Homo sapiens: one gene and its partner. The protein of the gene in region 2 purifies or fractionates together with the protein of the main gene of each other region. This does not show direct contact. Each region holds a gene or a part of one and is shown on either strand. Other genes may lie near its edges.

The links.
Region 1: the proteins of CNTN2 (region 2) and CNTNAP2 purify together in Homo sapiens (affinity purification with western blotting; 2 studies listed by BioGRID). This does not show direct contact.

Annotation. Positions count from the first base shown.
Region 1 is NC_000007.14:146,110,541-146,121,441, reverse strand, and holds the start of CNTNAP2 (contactin-associated protein-like 2 precursor), read right to left. Parts: upstream 4,642-10,901; 5' UTR 4,566-4,641; coding exon 4,469-4,565; intron 1-4,468. UniProt on the Homo sapiens protein: Required for gap junction formation. Required, with CNTNAP1, for radial and longitudinal organization of myelinated axons.
Region 2 is NC_000001.11:205,057,876-205,068,314, reverse strand, and holds part of CNTN2 (contactin-2 precursor), read right to left. Parts: intron 10,395-10,439; coding exon 10,250-10,394; intron 10,135-10,249; coding exon 9,959-10,134; intron 9,748-9,958; coding exon 9,652-9,747; intron 9,232-9,651; coding exon 9,022-9,231; intron 8,733-9,021; coding exon 8,633-8,732; intron 7,071-8,632; coding exon 6,895-7,070; intron 6,451-6,894; coding exon 6,314-6,450; intron 5,876-6,313; coding exon 5,746-5,875; intron 3,994-5,745; coding exon 3,843-3,993; intron 3,693-3,842; coding exon 3,565-3,692; intron 3,229-3,564; coding exon 3,053-3,228; intron 2,527-3,052; coding exon 2,406-2,526; intron 1,875-2,405; coding exon 1,716-1,874; intron 1,215-1,715; coding exon 1,065-1,214; intron 1-1,064. UniProt on the Homo sapiens protein: In conjunction with another transmembrane protein, CNTNAP2, contributes to the organization of axonal domains at nodes of Ranvier by maintaining voltage-gated potassium channels at the juxtaparanodal region. May be involved in cell adhesion.

The DNA of each region.
Region 1 (10,901 bases), on a different chromosome or scaffold from region 2:
TAAGAATTTCTGAGCCTAGATTCTCTCCTGATTCTGTATACCATTTACAACAAATACAAAAATCTACTTTTTAAAAACAGATGACATGTGTAGACATGTCACATTTCTTCTCTTTCAATCATAAAAAAGATTCACAAGACTAAAAATTAGCCGGGCATGGTGGTGGGCGCCTGTAGTCCCAGCTACTCGGGAGGCTGAGGCAGGAGAATGGCGTGAACCCAGGAGGCGGAGCTTGCAGTGAACTGAGATCGGGCCACTGCACTCCAGCCTGGGCGACAGAGCAAGACTCCGTCTCAAAAAAAAAAAAAAAAAAAAAAAAAAAGGAAGCTTTATGTAAACTTTAAGACATTTGAGTAAGTTTTTGTCTAGAAGAATTTACTAATAAGGAACAGTGAATTAAATCTCAAAGAAATTATAGAACTTGAAAGGTTTTCCCACTTAAAATAGACAAAAAACATATATCATCATGCATTTCCTAACAATAAGGATATATTTTGAGAAATGTATCCTTAGGCAATTTTGTCTTTGTGCCAACATCATAGAGTACACACTCACAAACCTAGACAGTGTAGCCTACTACACACATAGCATAGACTATTTGGTATGGGTTGTTGCTTCTGGGCTACAAACCTGTACTGCATGTTATTACACTGAATACTATAGGCAATTATAACACAATGCCTCTTTGTGTATCTCATCATACTTAAACATGGAAAAGATACAGTAAAAATATAATATACAAGATGAAAAATGGCACACCTATATATGACAGCTCCATTATAATTTTATGGAACCACCAACATACACGTGGTCCATCATTGAACTGAAATGTCATTATGGGGCACATAACTGTAAGATTTAAAATATGATATGCACCAAACAACTTTGATATCATCTAAAATGATACGTTGTAGGTTTATAACTGCATAAAGGTTAATAAGACCTAAATTAAATTTGTGGATTAATTTTTTTGCCCAATTTTGCCATATATTGATGGTAAAGAGTAAAATTTGAACAATGATTCTTACTTCCTGAATATCCGTGCCTATAATAAAATCGAGATTATACATTTCTCTCCAATTAGTTAATAATTATTAGTTGCATTAAGCAAATAATGTGCTATGCTTTATCAACCAATGAATTTTGCTTGCCTAAAGCTCCTTTTAAGTTTAAATTGTTTTCATTAAGACAAGTTCATTATTATGTTCAAGGTCTCTATAAACCAGCAGTATTTGCTTTTATATGCATTTACATATTTTACATTTAAAATACACCATTTTGGGAGAAGTATATGAATTGAGGAAGAGAAAATAGACTAATATACTATTGCTTAATATTGTTGCGTTAGTTACTTAAAATAATTGCACTGGAAAAAGACCTTTCTATAAACTTGTAAACAACTTAAATTCCTTGAATGGTGTTTTAGAAAATATATAAATATACACATTTTTACATATAATACTTAATATATGTGCTATATTAAATATGTATCTATGTACTTTATAACATGTATTCAAATGTTTTTATAAAACATATGAACAAATACATATATATTTATACACATATATATTCATGTGTGTGTATATATACACGTATAAAATCGTATTTGTTAGAGAATATGTGAATTAATTCAAAACACATTTCCCAAATGTGTTGGTCAATGAAATTATAGGTTAATAGTTCTACTAAATGATGTAAATTGGCCTTTATGAGAGATCATTTATTTAAGTGAAAATTCAGTTAACTCTAAAAAGTGAATTTATTAAGCGCTAGCTTAATCTCCTCATCATTTAGAACTGCACCATCAAGGTCTTTATAATATGTTCAAATAAATGCAACTCCCTAAGAGTGAAATATTTTCTTTAAACTTCCCACGTGTGTCCCGTGTATCTACATTTACAGGAAGGGAAGATACACGATTTGTTACATCAGCTCAGCAGCAGTTCATTTTCGCTATCTGCAAAGAAATTAGATTATATTTTTACATAACCATAGTGATGAGCTTTGTTTTCAAGTTTATTCTAGTCTGCTTGTACAACACATAGTATTAACAGTTTTTATATGTCTGTCGACAGAGAAAAAGAAATAAGTCATAAGCAAATACATATTTGAAATGCAGTTGTTGTGAAATAAACATCTTCTGTCCCTCATATTAAAAAGGTATTTAGGAACAGAAAGTTTTAGCATACTCATCACATTTTAAAAATGTGTACCAAAGAAAAATGATAGTTTTAGATTTTCATGCTACTTTTTGTCTTGTGATGACCTCTCCTGGTTGAGTTGCTCATTATCTTAGATTCATGTAGTTTCCATCTTTTTCTCCTTTGAATGTTTTATATTAAGAATATAACTATCATACTTTTCTTCAGAGCTATATATAATGTAAATAAAAATGTTCATTAATGTAAAGTACAGTTGATATTTAAAGTACTGAATCCATGAAACTCATTCTAATCAATAAAGTTCTGTAGCATCCTTATTATTTAATTCATTTCCAGGATATAGGGCAACTTTGCATTTTGGTCACACAGTTTAAATTCAAACGAAATAAAAAGCCACCTTAATTAAGCCATTACACATTTTTAAACAATAGAGAATGAAAGCCAAGTTAATAAAAAATCTTAATGGCCATAACTATTAACCATCTTAAAAGTAATTGTTTCTATGTTCTCTGTCTTCAAATTCTAACTATAAAGTTGAAAACTCAGAAAATATTTATGAAATAACAACTTTTTTATCTTAAAATGCATTAACCCAAGGGCTGCCAGTGTTCCATTTGCTACTCATGGCAGATGTTTCAGATGGACCCATCAAAATTAAAGTATACAGAATGATGGAACACAGAACCCAGGAAAAACCCTGGATATGAGGACCTTCAATCAGTGAATATAATAAATTTAATATATGAGGAGTTTATTTTCCAGGAAAAGTGGCAGGAAATTCTATACAACCAGACCTTGAAATGGAAACAGAAATTTCATCAAACTAGTTTCCCAGTGATAGAGTTACATATTTGTGTAAATATCAACAGCAAGCATTATATCCCCAAAATTTGTTTAAATTTATAAAATTGACATAAATATTAACAATATTTAACTCTTTGTGATTTAACTTGTGTTATAAAAAATGCTATACAATGTTTTCAAGTTCATTACAAACTTAGATTGCCAGTTAGTTTATCTCCTTATCTTTACACATTGTGGGAAAAGAAAAGCTAATACTGTACTTAGGAAGATATGTCAAAACAGTAATACTGGCTCATAACCGGATATTATATAGTAGATTCCTTATTACAACTTATAATGTCCTTTTTCAATGCTATTCCTGTTGATATTTACCACTACAATAAGATCATTATTAACAAAGATGCATTAATACATCCCAAAATCTTAGAAACAAAGACTACTTCGCATATGACGAATTCTGGAAAATATTAAACTTTTCTTTTCCTAAATGGACAAAAAAATCTTCCTTTTAAACTCTGAAATCTCCACGATAATTCTTTATCAACTTACTCATTCTCAGAAACTAGTATGCGCTTATGAATATTATCCTAAGATTCCTATAGGCAGTCTTTCTAGTGTTTAACTCTTTCTGAACCAAAGGAACAATCATGCATTTCCTCTCTACATGCACAGTATGCACTTCTAAAGGAATGCAGAAAATGGGCCAGAATCTTCCATTTCTTTCTAAACCTCATGAAAACAGGGGCAGTCTTAAACACACACACACACAAACACACACACACAGTTGATTAAAATGCAGAGATATACATATTGAATATAATTATTTTCCTGAAAACCCTATTAAGAATCTGTTTATTACTACATTAACGACGCTTTGCACTGAGTGTCCCAAGTACCGTACTGCATCAGTCATATCCATGATATCAAAGTATCAAAGAATTAAAGCAATTTCAGTTACAATTTCGCTGCCTTCCATTTTAATAAGCAAGTACTAAATGGGCATTAACTTTTTAAGGGAACGGGAGAGGTTAAAGAGACCCTATAGGTGCCCAAACTGTTTAAAACATGCTCCTCTTGTTAACCTCAACCCCGTGCTCATTAAGTTATAACCATAAATAAAAATAAGAAACTTGGTTTTGCCATGGTCTTCACTTTTCATTCACTGACCTACCTAAGCCAAATGCAGTTAACTCTCCCTGCACAAACAACTCCTAAGAAGCTGCCATCTACATCAGTCTCTCTAGCCAAGCTCTTGCCAACCGATCACCAAGACCAGGAACAACTTTCCAGAAACATCACCAGCGTCACAACCCTGTCTCTTCCAAAACAGAAACGCTGGGTTTCGAGTTTGTCTACTGCAGTGGCTGCAAGTGTGTGACAGCGGAGACACAAACACATCAGGGTGCCAGCACTGCGATGCACTTCGGAGTTGATACCCTGGTGCCAAACATCAATGCCGCACTGAAACTGCTCCAGAGCAGAGCGAGGAGACGGCTACTTACGGGACGTGGAGGGAGCCGTCCAGGCTCTGCAGAGGCAGCTGCTGACAATCCACAGCAGGAGCGCTGCCCCGCAGCCGGCGCGCGGAGCCGCCTGCATCCTTCGCCTCCCGGCCGGCGGCGCTCCAAGAGCTCGCTGCGGAGATGCAGTCCGACTCTCCGTAGGGTTCTTGAAGGGAGATGGGCTGTCCTCAAATACGCGAGGAAGCCAAGCCCCTCCCGCTTCCTCTTCTCCCCTCACCCCCCTCCAGGCTCCAGTTCTTCCGGGCTTGGAGCGGCAGGGGAGTCTCAGCCTTCGTTCTCCCTCCGTGCGGGTATTGCCTCTTGCACTGTGTGCCAGTGCAACGCCGGGGGAGGAAATTCAAACCAAGAAGGCAAAGGAGGGGGAAGAGGGGAGGGAACGGACACCTACCCCGCCCTCTCCTTCTTGAAAAAAAAAAATCACCAAAGGACGGGGGAGGGAGGTAATCAGAAGAGCAGAGGCTGCAGAAGAGGAAGGCAGAGCGACGGGGACGGTGGTGCAGCTGTTGCCACTGCGGGCGAGCGCTCCCTCCGCCGCCGGGCAGCGTGACTCGAGGGGTTTCCACTCGCCTGTCAGCTCACATGGAGAGCTTGTGTATGTGGGGAGCGCGCAGCGCAGCCGGGGCGCACGCACGGCCTCAGCGCTGCGCCGCGCGAGGAAGCATCTCCCGGGCGGCGGAGCGCGAGCAGCAGCAACAGCCGCGGAGAGCAGGAGACGCCGCCGCCGCCGCCGCCGCCGCCAGCTCCTGTGAGCCCGGGCGGCGAGCGAGGCGGAGGGAAGCCCTCCCTTCTCTTCCCTTCTCGGTTCCCTCCTCGGCTCCTCCTCCTCCTCCGCCTCCTCCTCCTCTTCCTCCTCCTTACCGTACCCCTCTGGCTGTCAAAACCCTTCTGCCCTGCCCTGGCCTCGTTTGAAAGCAAAAGGGAGACTGAGCCGACCGGCCGGGGTCCATCAGCTGGGGCGGGGGCGGAGCAAGGAGGCGCGCGCCTCTCCCTGGGCGGGAGGTGATGCTGTCCGCGGTGCTGAAGTTGGGGATTTGCCGTGTAATCCTAGAACCCTGCTCCAAACCTGGCTGCCCCCTACCCGGCTGCAGGAAGGAGAACACCCTCGCTCGGATGCCTTCTCCTTTCCTTCTCTCCTCCCCTTCAGATAAAGATGGTACAGGCTCCTGGAGCTCCGGCCCCCCGGGAACCACAGTCAGGCGTCCGACAGGCAGGTCTTCCGAGTGGTCCTAACACCAAGTGACGGTGCTAAACATCCCGACTGACTGGAGCAGGGAGGGAGGACTGCAGATGCCGTTAATGCACATGTTTTCGATATGTAATTAATTCGTACTCATACATATGCACACGTACACCAAACACACGCTGCTGCCAGGAGAAACTACACTTAGGCAAACACGCATACAAACACAAACACAAAACGGAAATACATAAGCAGGCATATGGGTAACTATTTCAAGGTACCTGAGGCATTGCAAGCACTAAGAATTAAGAATGTTTAGAGAGACCTAGATTTTTTCACATTTAGATAATTTTAATAATAATTATCAAGCTCTTCTCCCCAGCTCACAGCTCTTCACACTCTACCCTCCATATGTTTTTCTTCCATCTAGTCTACTTAAAGTATTTGAATTCTTATGTCTCTGCAGAGCCAAGCATTCCACTGACTTTATTGACACAATTAAAAATTATTGGTCATCTAAATATCTAATGATGTTTGTGGAGGACTAAGTAGGAGTAACCATGTCTTTCGATGTTATGCAATGAATAAGCATTTGCATTTAAAGATAAATAGAAAATTTATGGAGGCTTGCCTAATCCTGGAATAAACTGAGTTTTTAACATCATTGTTTGGTCTTAGAAAGGTCCACTGTAAATAGTACTGTGTATTCACTGCATAATTAATATGGTGTTAATGGGTCTGATTCAGCGCTTTTTATTTGATCTTTGTTTCTTGTTAATTTAAAAGGATGCTTTGTCCTAGTAAGAACTGCAGATTGGGTACAATATGGAAAATGAAGAAACACACAGATGACTAATGGGAGGTGAACTGCCTCCTCATTCTATAAAATACTCCTCCTGTAAAATAATACAGCAAATGCATTCTTATGGATTATAAAATGTCCCTTTGCTGTTTGAATTATCACAGACTGTCAAAAGTCAATGACCACTTGCCAAAACACTCCAGTAAAGAACTGCCATCAGCCATTTCTAAGAGCTCAAAGAAACAAGTCATAGGAAAAAAAAAAACTGTCAGAAAGCGTAACTTTTCAGAACAATCTATTATTTAACTATGCCTCTCCATTTTAACTATCATACTGAACTCCAATAACATAGCATTAAAGTATTTTCAATAGAAGAAAAAAGGCAGCGATTGAAAGTATTACCATTTCAGTAACTCAATGAATGCTATTCCATGGGTATCTCAAGCAGAACTGAAACAATTCCATTTCCCAGATTACCAAACTAAAAGACATGCAATAGACATCTATTTAATTATTTTGTAACAGAAAATGATATACCTGAGGGTGTATTCTTCTCCAAAGAGCATTCTGATCAGTTTGTAGTAATTTCTCCTAATGAGAAACAACAAAACTCAATTTAATAACACATGTAAATACCTGCACCACCTCTGTGCCATATAGGATGGTCTTATTTCATGCCAGTATGAGCTAAGAGCCTGCTTTAATCTGTTTTCAATGCACTTTGTCAGGTTTGAAAGTTATGTCACATCATTTGTAACACAACTACCTCTGCCTTCAATTTGTGTTAATTAGATATGGACATCTGGAACTCAAAATACTTAAAGTCTTAAGACTTTAATTGTTGCCAGATCAGAGACTCCCTAGAGTATAATGCTATGTTCTTCCTATCCAACTCCATTAGAGTTTATATTTTCATCATTATTACAATTAGAATTTAGAATTAAGCTTCTTCTTCCTTCAGTTATCACTATGACTTTTAGTGAGAAGGTAGGAATTAGTAAGTCTGTTTGTTCTGGTCAAACTACACGGTCCAGCAAAACTGGTAATCCAGTCAATGGACTTACAACAGTCCAACCAGATGTCTAGTAGATATGATAAGCATGAAATTTCTTGTTTCTGAGAGTGAATTCATTATTGATTTCTATATTACATTGATGTTTGCAAATAATTGAAGACAGCTAATAATGATTTGAACATATGTCTCCTTAGTTGGAAGTAAGGTCAATTAAAGCTTGAAAGTAGTAAAACTAAGTGGACCAACGGTACACACACACAAACCCACCCACCGGCCCCCCCACCCCAGCCCCACCTCCCCCAAATGCACAGCATGACCAGAAAAGACAGTGGGCAATTTGCATTATTTTGGAAGTAGAGCAATGGAAAATAATAAAGAATAGACATTTTCTCTTTCCCACTGCTCACATCCTCTTTACTTCAACAGATTTTTAAAAAATGTTAGCTTGATCCCATGAGTAGTGACTTCATTAGCAGTATACACATTCTTCATTTGCATCCCCAATATTAATTGAATATCTACTATTATTGGGTTTGGCATTATGCTACATAGAGTTTATGCCTATGACCAAGATGGATATTACACTGGTAGTGAGTGGTTGAATAAACGGACCAAAATAAGTCCATATCATCTTTATGCTAACATTAATTCAAGTAAATCTTGACTGGCTCTTTTTTTCCAATATCTTAATACATTCTTAAAATTAATATTCTCAACAAATATAAAAATTATTTTTATCACAATCATCATTATTATTCCAGAGTTCTGTAAATAGTCTGCCACAATGTAAATTATCTCAAAAGTCTGCCCAAATTTTGGAACTTAAGTGAAAAAAAAGAGTCAAAATATTTCAATCTTAACACTTTGAAGTGATTGCATGAAGCACTGGAAAAATTCAGGAATTTTCAATAGGTTAAAAAAAATTGGTATATGTCTAGGTGAGTGCCTTGGAGTAGAATTTCCTTCTGTAAAGGGAGCTGTCCAACTATGCCCAGAAATCAGTGAATGCCTGCTGAAAAATCGGCCAAATTAGAGTAGATACATTTGCCAGTCTGATTGCACCCTCTAAGAAGGCTTTAGCACCTGCTTCTCTGAAAATATACAAGCTGTCTGGAATGTTATTCTTTAGTGAGCATGAACAGGATAAAGTAGAGTCCCATAGTAAAACCTCTGGTGAGCTGAAAAATCTACCTGGATTTTGGTCCTTTAGCCCTGCTAATTGTCCCTGGGCACTCTGAGATACTTCATATCATAATCAAGTATCAATTGGAATGACATACTGAGGAAGATGCATAAACTTAAAGGGATTTCCAAAATTTCACTTTATTTTAAAGGTCTCAGGGAAATGCATGATACCGAGTGTTATTTGGATTAAACACCTTGAATATATTGCTAAAGAAACAATTCATGTTTTGGCTGTTTAATGTTAGTAGGAAAGGTAAAGTCAGCAAAGGGTGGTCTTAATGCACTGGTAAACATACTTTCAATTAATATAAGAAACTGGGAGGAAAAATAGTTAAACTAATTTGTAAATTTAGAATATAAAACTTGACCTTAATATTTATTGCATTCTTCATGTTCTGCGGGGTGAGGTGGGGGTCACAGCGCAGCTCTGTTGCCCAGATTTTAAGTGAATTTCTTTTGAGTGTCATAATCACATAGAAATTAGGAAGAACCAGATGGTCATTCAGGAAGCAAGTTAGAGTGGAAATTGAGCCTGGTCTCTGGGATTTGTGTATTGGCCTACAAACTCTTTGTGTGACCTTACCCGCACACTGGATGCTTTCATTTTCTCACCTATAAGATCAGAGTAGTATTTATACCCATAAAACTTGATTATTTTGGGAATTAAACATAATTTATATATTATACCAGGCACAGAAAGTGTTCTCTATAGATTAACTACCAGTACTATTATTATTATCCAGATAAATTAATATACCTCAAAGTTCTAAACTGAAGTTCTAGAATCTTAAGTTTATCCCTCAATAAATTCATATTGAAAAACCATTTAGATTTTTTTCTGGATTAGAAAAAATCTTTTATCAATGAGAAGTTATGTCAAATTGTCTGAACATTAAGATCAATTTATATATTAATGTGAAAGCAGTGTGAAAAAATAAAATGCATATTGGAATAAAATTTTGGAAATATATTTGGAATTTGAAAGAACTATGAGAAAGTAAGGTCTATAGAAACATAAGGCAAGATGTGGGGCTTGTGAACTGAAGTACATATTTTCCAACAAAGATCACTTCTTAAGATTTTGAAAATTATCTTTGTTTCAATTAAAAGAGAGAAAAATAGAGTTGTTTAAAATTATTCTAAGCATTAAAGTATTACTACTCCATTGAGACTAGACCTTATGTTATAGATGTACAGACTGTCTAAGCAACAAGGAGGACCCATTTCCTAAAGCAGTAGTTTCAGGAGATGAAGGAGAGGGGAGAAAAAGGCCTTTCAGCGTTACAGGCTGGTTACAGAGAGGCAGTCAGGCTCTCAGAATTGCAGTTCCAGAAGTGGTTGCTGCTGAAATATTCAAGTTTATGAGTGGATTGTTTCCTGAAAAAATCCAGGATTAAGTTGGAGGGTAGTTGGTCTAATCAGTATGGCTACCCAAAGTAGACTGCCTGCAGCAGGAAGTAGGACTTGTTACAGTATAACCAGCTCACAGTTTGCAATTTATCATCAAAGGTTTGTTTTAATGCAAAATACTAAACTATAATAGGAAGGCTGTTGAGTACATTTATGAAGCACAGTCTTATGGGCAAGGGCTTAAAGACCTTTAGATTTTATAACTCAGGTCATTTGATTTGATAGAATTGAGTAATGTGTCTAAATCACATAGGCGAATGCAGATTTTGCTGACTTTTGTGTGAAATTTGTGACATGAGTAGCTAGGCTGTGGAAAGTATCTTAGTCTGAATTTAGAGATGTATGCTATTACTACTTTAACAGCAGATTGTGTGAAGTTTTATGTGGACTTTTCTTGTCAGACAGGTTATTTAAACTTTTATCCTTCTACTGATGTCATGATTATACATTTTAGACCACAGGGAATTGGGTAGAATTTACTCCCAAAAAGGAGATCAGTAAGTCCACGGAAAATATTTGGGTTAATAAACATCAAGAGTTAATATGATTTCATCTCAGGGGAACGAGGGTGAGTGAGAGCATAGAAGAGGAGATGGATAAAATTCTATGAAGAATTAGGCAACAGCCTTCATTCCAAATACAATTTCTTTGATTTGGCTTAAAGATAGAAATGACTTGAACTGGAGGGTTATGTCTATGTCTGTGACTTCCTCTTGGAATGGGGCCTGTGAAATCTTTTTGGTAGTAAGTGAATACAGAGGTGCATATTGAAATAGCAAATGAAAACAATAGTCATGACCACTGAATTCCAGCCCTGGGA
Region 2 (10,439 bases):
AACAGGTCTGTAGAGGAGGTGAGGCAGGGTCCTTAATCTATGCTCCTGGTCCCAGGATCCCCGGGCTCTCATTCCAGGCCTTCCCCTGCGAATGGCTCGGAGATGGGCAGGAGCCTCTCAGCAGATGCTGACTGGAGCCTGTGCCTCCCCTACTCTCTCCTGGGTTCTTTTCTCCCCCTCCTTCTCCACTCAAGTTCTGACACCCACACGCTTTTTGCTGAGGGTTGTGGGCAGGTTATTCAATTCCATCTGCTCCCAAAGAAACCATCTAAAGGCTTGGAGACACTGGCTGCTTCCCTAGCCCCCTGCACAGAACACACACACATCTTTCACATCAACTGATTTCCTTTTTTTCTTTCTTTTTTTTTTTTTTTTTTTTTTTTTTTTGAGATGGAGTCTCGCTCTGTCGCCCAGGATGGAGTGCAGTGGTACAATCTTGGCTCACTGCAACCTCCACCTCCCGGGTTCAAGCGATTCTCCTGCTTCAGCCTCCCGAGTAGCTGGGATTTACAGGTGTGTGTCACCACGCCTGGCTAATTTTTGTATTTTTAGTAGAGACGGGGTTTCACCATGTTGGCCAGGCTGGTCTCAAACTTCTGACCTCAGGTGATCTGCCTGCCTCGGCCTCCCAAAGTGCTGGGATTACAGGCTTGAGCCACTGCGCCCAGCCAGCATTAACTGATTTCTGTAGTGCATACTCTTCCAGGAAGACATCTGTCTACCACCCCATGGTCCTGGGTTCAAGTCCAAGCTCTGTCAATGTGACTCTTCCTTTCTCCGAACTTTGGTTTTTCCACTTTTAAAAATTAAACTTAAAAAAATTATAGATGCACATGCAGTTGTAAGGTTGGCCAGTTTTTAAATGAGGAGTTTGGACTAGATGGTTTGTCCATGCAGTGGCCCTGGTCCCAACTTGGTGTTCTGTCCTCCTCTGTTTTGTGAGAGTCTGAACCCTGTGAGCAGGGTTGGAACTCAGCATAATTGCGGCTGGCTTGGCATTCCCTATAAGTGGTGCCAGGGTCTCTGCCCTGATGATAGCTTTTTGGGACACACAGGACTCTCACCTGCTTCCCTGGTCCGGATTTTGCTGGAGGGCCCACTAGGCTCCCCAGTGCCCAGAATGTTGCTGGCTATGACCCGGAACTCATAGTCCATCCAGGGGGTGAGGCCCAGCACCTGTGCAGTCTCGGCATTGCCCTCGATGTTTGCAGGATCTGCAAGGCACCAGGGAGTCCATATTCCAGCATTCGCTTATTCATCTGGGTGCAGAGGGCAGGCACTGGCCTGAATCACCCCTTATCTACCCAGCCCTCACTTCGGTACTTGCCATATACTAAGCACTCAGTACCTTTTTCAGAAATGATTGAAAAACTACTCAATTTCCCTATCTTGGTGCCTCTGCAATGCTGTGTGCACGCCTACGCCCCTATGTCCCCATGAATATTTTCATTGCTCCAGTAACAATCCTACCAATTCTTCAAGGGCATAGACCAAGCGCCTCCTCTTCTAACTCTTTCCCGACTCTCCTACTTTCTGTGTGACTGTCTTCCTGCCTGCCTGCATGCTCTCTGCTGGCAGAGGACAGATCTTGTCCCTCTTTGAAGCTCCAGGCTCAGCCCTGGCCCTCAGACCCCGATCCCCAAACCTTGACCCTTTCCACCTCCTACACCCAGTCGAGCCTTATCAGCACTGACCCAGGTGGGGCTCACACTTACTGGTCCGAACCTGCTTCCACTTCCCTGCAGGTGGAGTGCGAGCTTGCAGGGTGTACTTAGCGATGGGGCTGTGGTTGTCGAAGCCACGGCTCCAGCTGAGCTGGATGGTGGTGTCGCCAATGTCCCTCACCACCACACCTCCTGGGGGACCTGGCGGACCTGCACCAAGAGGTCAGAGCACAGTGGGTCAGAATTGGGCAGCTTCCAATTTGAGCCAACCTCCTCCCAGCCAGGCTTGAGCTGGTACAGTACCAAGACAGGGCAGCAGAGGATGCAGTGAACACACACCCAGGCGGGAGGGCGGGCAAGGGGTGTGGGCAGTTGGGGCGGGTGCCAGTTGTTGGGTGGAGGGATGTGTCTCAAGGCTGGGGGAGCTCACAGAGGCTGTCACATGGAGAGGTGCATAGATCTCCCAGCACTAGGCTTTGAAAACTTCAGGGCTCAGTAAAGCACTCCTGTCTTGGGATGTGTTTAGGAGTGGATTTTTTAAACTTTGACTTTGGAAGAAAAATGTCCTGATCATTTAGGACCTGTGAAGAACCACAGGGTATATCCAGCTCACAGGAGTTCCGCCGGAAGCCCTTCCCCGCAGCTTTGAGGGAAGGGAGGGGAGATGAGGCGAGCAGGTCAGAACAGCCCAGCTGGGTTTTAAGGGAGTTGGGGTAGGGGTAGAGGTGGGAAACCCCTCACCTCGGACCAGGACTGTGGCCTCCTTGGACGCGCTGTCCACCACCGTCTGGGCCATGCACGTGTACTTCCCCCCATGGCGCAGCTGGGCGTTCAGGATGGTCAGATCCCCAATGGTCTCCTTCTGCACACGGGGACAGTTAGGGGCAGCAGGTCAGACCACCGGCCCTGACCAGTGCAGCAGGCCATGAGACATGAGGCAGCGCTTGGGAGTCCCCTACTCCATGACATCCATGGACCCCACTGGATCTCAGTTTTCCTGTCTGCTCAATGGGAGGAATCACGACTCATCACTTAGAACCACTGGGGACTAAACAGCAAAGTTTGTTTCAGGAGACAGTCAATGACTGTCCACATTAATAATATCATTTGCCCTAGGGGACAGGCTAACAAGAACAGTAGTGGGAGTGTCTTGGTGGCTGCCCACAACTCCAGGTTTGTCCCTAACCCTCTCCTAAATGCATGGTCCCTGGGTGGAATCCAGGAAGGTCAGCTGTTCATCCAAGGATGAGCTTGCCATGTGTGGGCCTGAGGGAATGGGGGCGCTTAGGCTATGGGTTTCTTAAAGGTGAGGATGGCTAAGGACATCTTGGGGCCCCTGTCTCTCTAGAAGGAGGGAGAAGCCATGGGGCTCTGGCCCTAGGTCTCACCACATTAGTTCTCCGGTAGTGCCCTCCAGGCTTATCAAAGTCGATGGGGAAGTCGTCCAGGGTCCAGGTGAAGGTGAGGTCCATGGTGGGGTCGTGGGAGGCATGGCACTGTAGGGTCAGGTTGTCACCCAAGTTGATGTCGGCACTTGAGGGGGCTAGAGTGATTTTGGTTGCATCTGCCAAGAAAAACAAGGCCCTTGGGTGGATGGGGGAGGAAATGGGCCCAGGCCGGGTCCGCAGGGCAGGCTGAGAGGCTCTGTCCTAAGGCCCAGCAAAGAGAAGAGGTGGTGTGACCCACAGGTCCCAACTGCCCAGGACTGCATGAGTGTGTGGCAGGCAGGGAGGCATGACCAGAGTCTCAGTGGTGGCCAGGGGGTGGTCCCAAGCAAAACTGAATCCTGGGGTGGCCTTGACACCAAACTAGGAGCAATGTGGACACAGGAGCAGGATGATGGGGAGGACAGTACCCTGAGGAGGCTGAGCCCCCGGCCTACCCACATGGCAGCCCTCACCTCGCACAGATAGGATTCCAGTGCTGTTGGCTTTGCCCATGAAGTTCTCAGCAAAGCAGGTGTATTTGCCTTCATCTGACCGGCTGATGTTTCTTATGATCAAGGTGCCATCTGGAGTTACAGTCACTCTGTGGCAAGGACAAGGCAGATGTGGCCAACTCAGGCATGGTTGTCCCTGGGGCTGGCCAACTCCTGTGACTGTTGTCACAGGAGGGGAATTGGCCTCCATGGAGAATGAGGAGGAGCAGGAACTGTGCAGGGTGGGGTGTGGGTGGTACCTGCTGCTGTTGACCAAAATCTCCGTGCCTTTGCTCCAGAGCACCACGGCCTTTGGAGCTGCCCGGGGCTGGCAGGGGATAAGGATCTCTCCCCCGCGGGCCGCGGGGATCAGACGCCTCACGGGATTCAGCCTGAAGTCAGGGGCGAGTGCTAGAAGGAAAGGGGAGAGCCACAGAGAAAAGTACTGTCACCCTTGATTAAGACGTTACTTGGCGTGCCCTTTGAAGCCACGCCATGAGTGACTCCTATTAGCACCTCTTCCAGAATGCATCCAGAACCAAGCCCTTTTTTCTCTGGCCTAAGCTATCAAATCTCCCGCCTGGACTATTGACAACGCGCCCCCCCTCCGCCCCTCACCACCACCCCTGCCACCCCACATCAGTCTTCCTGTTTCTGCACCTTCCTTCTACAATCTTTTCTCCACCCAGTTGGGAATGAACAGCTTTTTCAACTCACACTCAGTGAAGCCCGGCTCTTCACAAATAAGTCTCCACCTTTCCAATCGCATCTTGCTCCACTCTATCCCCCATTCATTATGTTCCAATCACCTAGCCTTTTTTTTTCTCTCTCTCTCTCTTTTGAAGTTGTGAAGTCTTTTCCTGCCTCCAGAGCTTTGCACTTGCTGTAAATCTTGCCTGGAAATTCCCCAGATCTTCACGCGGCTGGCTTCTTAACATTCAGGTCACAGTCTAAATGAGACTTCCTCAGAGAGGACTTCTCTGACCACCCCACCTAACAGGCCCATCTCACGCCCATCACTCTACTGGGTTTTCTTTTCTTTTCTTTCTTTCTTTCTTTCTTTCTTTTTCTTTTCTTTTCTTTCTTCTTCTTTTTTTTTTTTTAAAAGACAAGTCTTGCTGTGTTGCCCAGGCTGGAGTGCAATGGCACAATCTCAGTTCACTGCAGCCTCTGCCTCCAGGGCTCAAGTGATTCTCCTGCCTCAGCCTCCTGTGTAGCTGGGACTACACGTGTGTGCTACCATGCCTGGCTAAATTTTGTGTTTTTCATAGACATGGGGTTTCACCATGTTGCCCAGGCTGGTCTCAAACTCCTGAGCTTGAGGAGATCCACTCACCCCTGCCTCCCAAAGTGCTGGGATTACACAGGCATGAGCCACTGCACCCTGCCTGGATTTTCTTTATACTATATTTGATGGCTAGCTGAAATTATTTAATTGTTTGATTTGGGGTTTATTTGTCCCTTTCCCTCTACTGGATTGTAAGCTACTTAAAGGCAGAGACCGTATCTTTTATATTCATCCCTGTGAAGTGTTGAGTAAGTAGTGGTTGAATGGATGAAGGAACGAATGAATGCTTCTTAGCAAAGCTTCACTAAAACCTGATGTGGTGGGTATCACTGTGTCCATTTTATGGATGAGGAAACTGAGGCTCAGTGAGCTCAAGTCACACAACTAAATATTAGCACTGGCTTACATTTCCCGGGCACCTGCTGTATGGTGGGCAGGCCCTTTATGCTGTACCTCTTTCATCTCACTTGTTCCATACAGCAGCCCAGGAGGGCAGGACTATTATTGCCTATATTTTATAATCAAGAAACTGAAACACAGAAACACTAAGTAACTTGCCAAAGCTCACATAGCTGAAAGGGTTGGGTTACACAAATCTGATTGATTTGGTTTCTGTTTTTTTCACTCACTGCAGCAAACATTTACTGTGTGCCAGACATGGAACAAGTCAGAGACCCTGCCCTCTGGCAGCTGTCAACCCTGTGTCTCATCTCCTTTCTTAAATCTCTGAGTTCTCCTACTTAGAAACTGTTGGAAAACCAAGGAAAATGGCCACAGGGTATGTGCATGTGTGTTTGGAAACACCTAAACTCAGAGCTCTGAAAGCCACCATATGCATGTCCTTGGGATGTCCCCTGCCTCCCTGGGCCCCTTACCTTGCACGGCTAGCTCGGCGCTGGCGTAGATGGTACCGTGCTTATTCTCTGCCACACACTGGTACATGCCCGAGTCTTCCAGGCTCAGCTTGGAGAACCGCAGGTCCCCAGCCAACACCTCCACCCGGTTCTGTGCAGAAGAGCCCAGAGCCCAGGGGGATCAGGACCACAGGAGCCACAGGGAGGAGGGGTTGGCAGGGGTGGGAGCAGTGGAGACTCTAGGCTGATAATCCCTAGAGGATATGGCTTATATGTCCAGTCCTACCTCAGGGCTGCCTGGAACCTCAGGATGCAGATTACCCAGGCCTCCCCAAAGCTGGAAGGGTGAGGTGACCCAGTCAGGACCACATCACTTCTTTTGTGGCTGAACTGTGCCTGGATCCAGGCCTAGCCTGTGACAATGGGACTGGGATGGGAAGAAGTCCTTAGGTGGTCCTAGGACCACCCTCTGACACCCTAATTAGCCCAGAGGGGCTACTAGTGGTGCAGGGGAAGTTCTGGGCGGGGGAGGGAACCAAGTGAGCAGAGGACAGTTGTGATGTGTCGGGGGAAGCCCCATGTCTCCTACCTGGGAGGCCAGAGGCTCCCCGTTCCGCAGCCAGCGCACTGTAGGCCGGGGCTTGCCGGCGGCTGCACAGCCCCAACGCAGGTTGGAGCCAATGTCAGCCTCTGTGTCCGAGATCACTTTTAGCCACTCAGGCTGAGCTGTGGGAGCCCGGAAAAGAAAACCTGGCATGAGCTAGGAGGAGCTTCCAGCTCATTAAAAGGAACAGAAAATCAGGGCAGCAGCACCTGTGCCAGACAGCAGAGGGCGCCATGAGCATTCTGAGATGGAGAGGACAAAGAGGAGGGGGCCGGAAGAAGGAGGCACAAGAAAGCTGGCACTCTGTGGCTGTGCCAGTGGCTGCTTTTGCAACTTAAATCATTCTGGAGCCTCCTGTGTGCTTTCTGCACCCCTGACTGAAGCTCTGAGGTGACCACAGCACTAGCCTCCTCTGGTCCCAGACTCAGTGCAGTCCTAGGGCAAGCAGGCTCATGCAGGGGGCCTCCCAGTCTCCTCCCTGACTTTTGGGTCTGTTTCCTTGGGGACAAGGGTGAAGGCGGGAAGGGGGGTCGGGAGGGGCGGAGAAGGTGTCCCTGGCTCTGTACCCTGCACGATGATGCGGCCCTGCACGGTGTCTCGGCCCTTGGAGTTCTCCGCCTCACACTCGTAGGTGCCCTCATCCTCAAAGCTGACGCTGGGGATCTGCAGGGTGGGCTCAGCTGTGGTCCACTGCGGGGACAGGGAGCCGTCCACTTTGCGCCACTTGATCCGGGGGACAGGGCTGGCAGGAGAGACAAAGCCAGAGGGTGTGGGCTGAGCTGGGCCTACCCCTCCAGTGCCCGCAGCTCCTCATACCCAGACTCTCAGGCCCTCCTGAGATGCTGGGCCTGGGAGGAACAGAGGGAGAGAGGGTGCCTTCTGGCTGATCCTCACTCTCCTCTCCCAGGTAGGCTCGGAGCACACGCAGGGAAGGGGCAAGAGGCAGGGCTGCTCTACCCATCCCCCCTGCAACAACCCTGGAGCCAGTGAAGCCGGGCTTCTGCGGGGTCTGCACCCTGAAGCTGGCCTGCCCTCTCCCGCACCGGTCACCATGCCTCTGGGTCTGCCCTCCGCCACAGTGGCCTGTGACCTGGGTCTTTACGGGTTCTCTTTTCCGTTGCCTCTACAGGGCAGGCCTTGCCCCTACTTTGAAAGGGACTTTAGTTAGTAGTAATCTGTGCACTAAAACGGACTGAGGTATCAGTTTTAATGGGTTAATATATTCCCCTTCCACATGCTTTTCTTTTTTTTCTTTTTTTTTTTTTTTTTTTGAGACGGAGTCTCGCTCTGTCACCTAGGCTGGAGTGCAGTGGGGCAATCTTGGCTCACTGCAAGCTCTGCCTCCCGGGTTCACACCATTCTCCTGCCTCAGCCTCCCGAGCAGCTGGGACTACAGGCACCCGCCACCACACCTGGCTAGTTTTTTTTGTATTTTTAGTAGAGACTGGATTTCACCGTGCTAGCCAGGATGGTCTCGATCTCCTGACCTCATGATCTTCCCACCTCGGCCTCCCAAAGTGCTGGGATTACAGACATGAACCACCGCACCTGGCCCCACTTCCACATGCTTTTCATGTGGATTTTCTGGAAGCCCAAAACTTCCCACAAGGCAGAGATTCTCCCAGGTAACCATAGGAGATAGTTGAGGGAGGAGGGGGCCAAAGTACAAATCACATTCTTTCTTTCATACTACAAACATTTATTGAGCACCTGCTATTTGCTTAGCCCTGTTCTAGTGACTCCTTCTTCTAGGAGTACGAGAAAGAGAACACTTTCTGCTGCCATTCTCAAATAGATCACTGTTAACATTCACGGAACACTTAACTAAATTCCAGGCACTGTTCTAAGTATCTCACATATATGAACTGATTTAATCCTCATGACAACCCTATGAGGTAGGTACTATTATCACCACCATAAAGAAACTGAGGCACAGAGAGGTTAGGCAGTTTACCCAAGGTCTGCGGGTGGCAGAGCTGGGATCTGAATGAGACAGACAGGGTTGGAGTCTGTACACTGTGCTGCCTGCCTCCAGCCCTGGGTGTTACTCAAGCTGTCTGAGCCTGCCATGCACTGCTGGAAGACCAAGTGATCCTGGCCATGGAAGGCCCCTGGCATATGCGATGCCTCACCCAGAGAGGTACTGTCCAGTGAGTGGTGGTCGATACCCACTGTGTGCCCAGTACTTTGCTAGACCCTGTGAGGGACACCAAGATAAGAGCCCTGACTCTGCCTGCCCTCACCCTGGGGTCACCTGTGCCCCCGAGAGACCGTGCTCTGCTTCCCCTCCCTCTTCACACTCACTTCCCAAAGGCGAAGCACTCCAGGGTGACCTGCTGCCCCACCAGTGCATAGGTCTCTGCTGGGAACCGGGCCTTGATGCTGGGTGCAAAGAGCCGGGTATCTGGGGAGAGAGGGTTTTACAAATCAGATGCAGATGACTCCAGGTCAGGTGCTCCCGTGCATGGGATCTCAGCACCTTTCAGAGCCAACTCTGTCTAGGCAGCTGTGTGGAATCTCCTTGAGGCCTGGGGCAAGGGCCTCAGGATTTGAAGCAGGAGGATCTGGGGGTCCAGGGCCTGGAATCAGTGCCCTGCAAGCTGATCTTCCAATCTCCAAAGGAAAAACCCTTTTCCTAATGCCCGCTGACCCTTCCAGTTCCCTCCCTCCAGCCACGCCTGGCCAAGCCTGACCTTCAGCAGCCAGGTTGAGCTGAGCAAACTTGCTGAAGACGCTCTTGGTGGAGAAGTCCATGTGGCTGGTGGCCAAACAGGAGTAGTTGCCCAGGTCTGAGGCATTGGTTCGGGCAATGTACAGGTTCCCTGTGGTCTGGGACACGAAGTGACGCCCGTCCGTCGGGATGAAGTTGGGGAACTCGTTGAGGAGCCAGCGGTAGGACAAGCCTAGGATGTGAGGAGTTTGAGGAAACCAGGGGGTGCTGGGCTAACAGGGCCACTCTGGGTGGGACCCCAGCATGCTGGTGCGGTTCTGCAAGCCCTGTCCTGACAGCCACCATGCTCTGAACTGGGGCTAAGGGGAGACCTAGAGGGAAGAAGTGACTTTATTCCTGCCCTCAGGGAGCGCTAAGTCTGCCAGGGATCGCAGCCCTCAGGGGCCACCCAGTTTGAAGGCGGAAGCAGGGCACAACGATGGAAAGTGACAGACCTATAAAGGAAACACAGATCATTTAAAGTTAGGGTCCCAGGGATGGGTGCTTCTAAGGGTCATTTCCAGGGGTCTCCTTTTATTCCATCCTTCCTCTGCCAAGCATCTGGAAGCCCTTCCTGTGCCCTCTCTAACCCTGGCCCCAGGTCTGGACTCACCTGGGTAGTGGGCAGGTGGGTTACAGGGCAACATCACCCCCCAGCCTTCATGAGCTTTCACTGGGTCTCGCTCCTCCTTGGAGAATTCCTGCAGAACTGGAGGCAGAGACCAGGGGCTCAGGCACTGTCCTCCTGGCCTGCGAGCCCCTCCCCGACTCATCCTTCACGGAGAAGCAGCAGTTCACTAAGGCATGTCATGTGAGGTCAGGAAGGCCCGGCTTGAGGGTGTCCCTTATCCTTTCTCAGTAATTTCTCCTAGCCCCCTCTCCCCCTCCCCCAAAGTGTCTTGGTCCCCCGCGGGTCTCACAGCCGAAGCGGAGGATGGCCTCCCTGCTGACAACGGTGCCCACTGGGTTGGAGGCCAGGCACTGGTAGACCCCGGCATCCTGTGCCTTGGTGGGGTTCATGATGACCAGGTTGCCCCCCACCAGCTGGTGACGGGAACCTGGCTCCAGCTTCATCTCGGTACCATTCATCTTCCACCTGCAGCAGGGGACAGAGGAAGGGGACCTCTGAGTCCTGCCTGGTGGCAGGGCTGATGAGAGGGAAAGTTCAACGGCTGCCCAGGGCCTCCCAGCACCCACTGCAGAGGCCTTACCGATAGGTGGCTGGAGGGCTGGCCCGGGCGCGGCATGCCAGCAACACCTGCTCCTCCGTGGACTCCTCTGGGAATAGCACACTGAGGGGCTGGTCTTCAAAGACAGGCCCGAAGGTGGTTTGGGATCCCAGGGCTGAACTCCAAGCTGCAGGTGATGACACCACCAGATGCCTCAGAGCCTTGGCCTGGC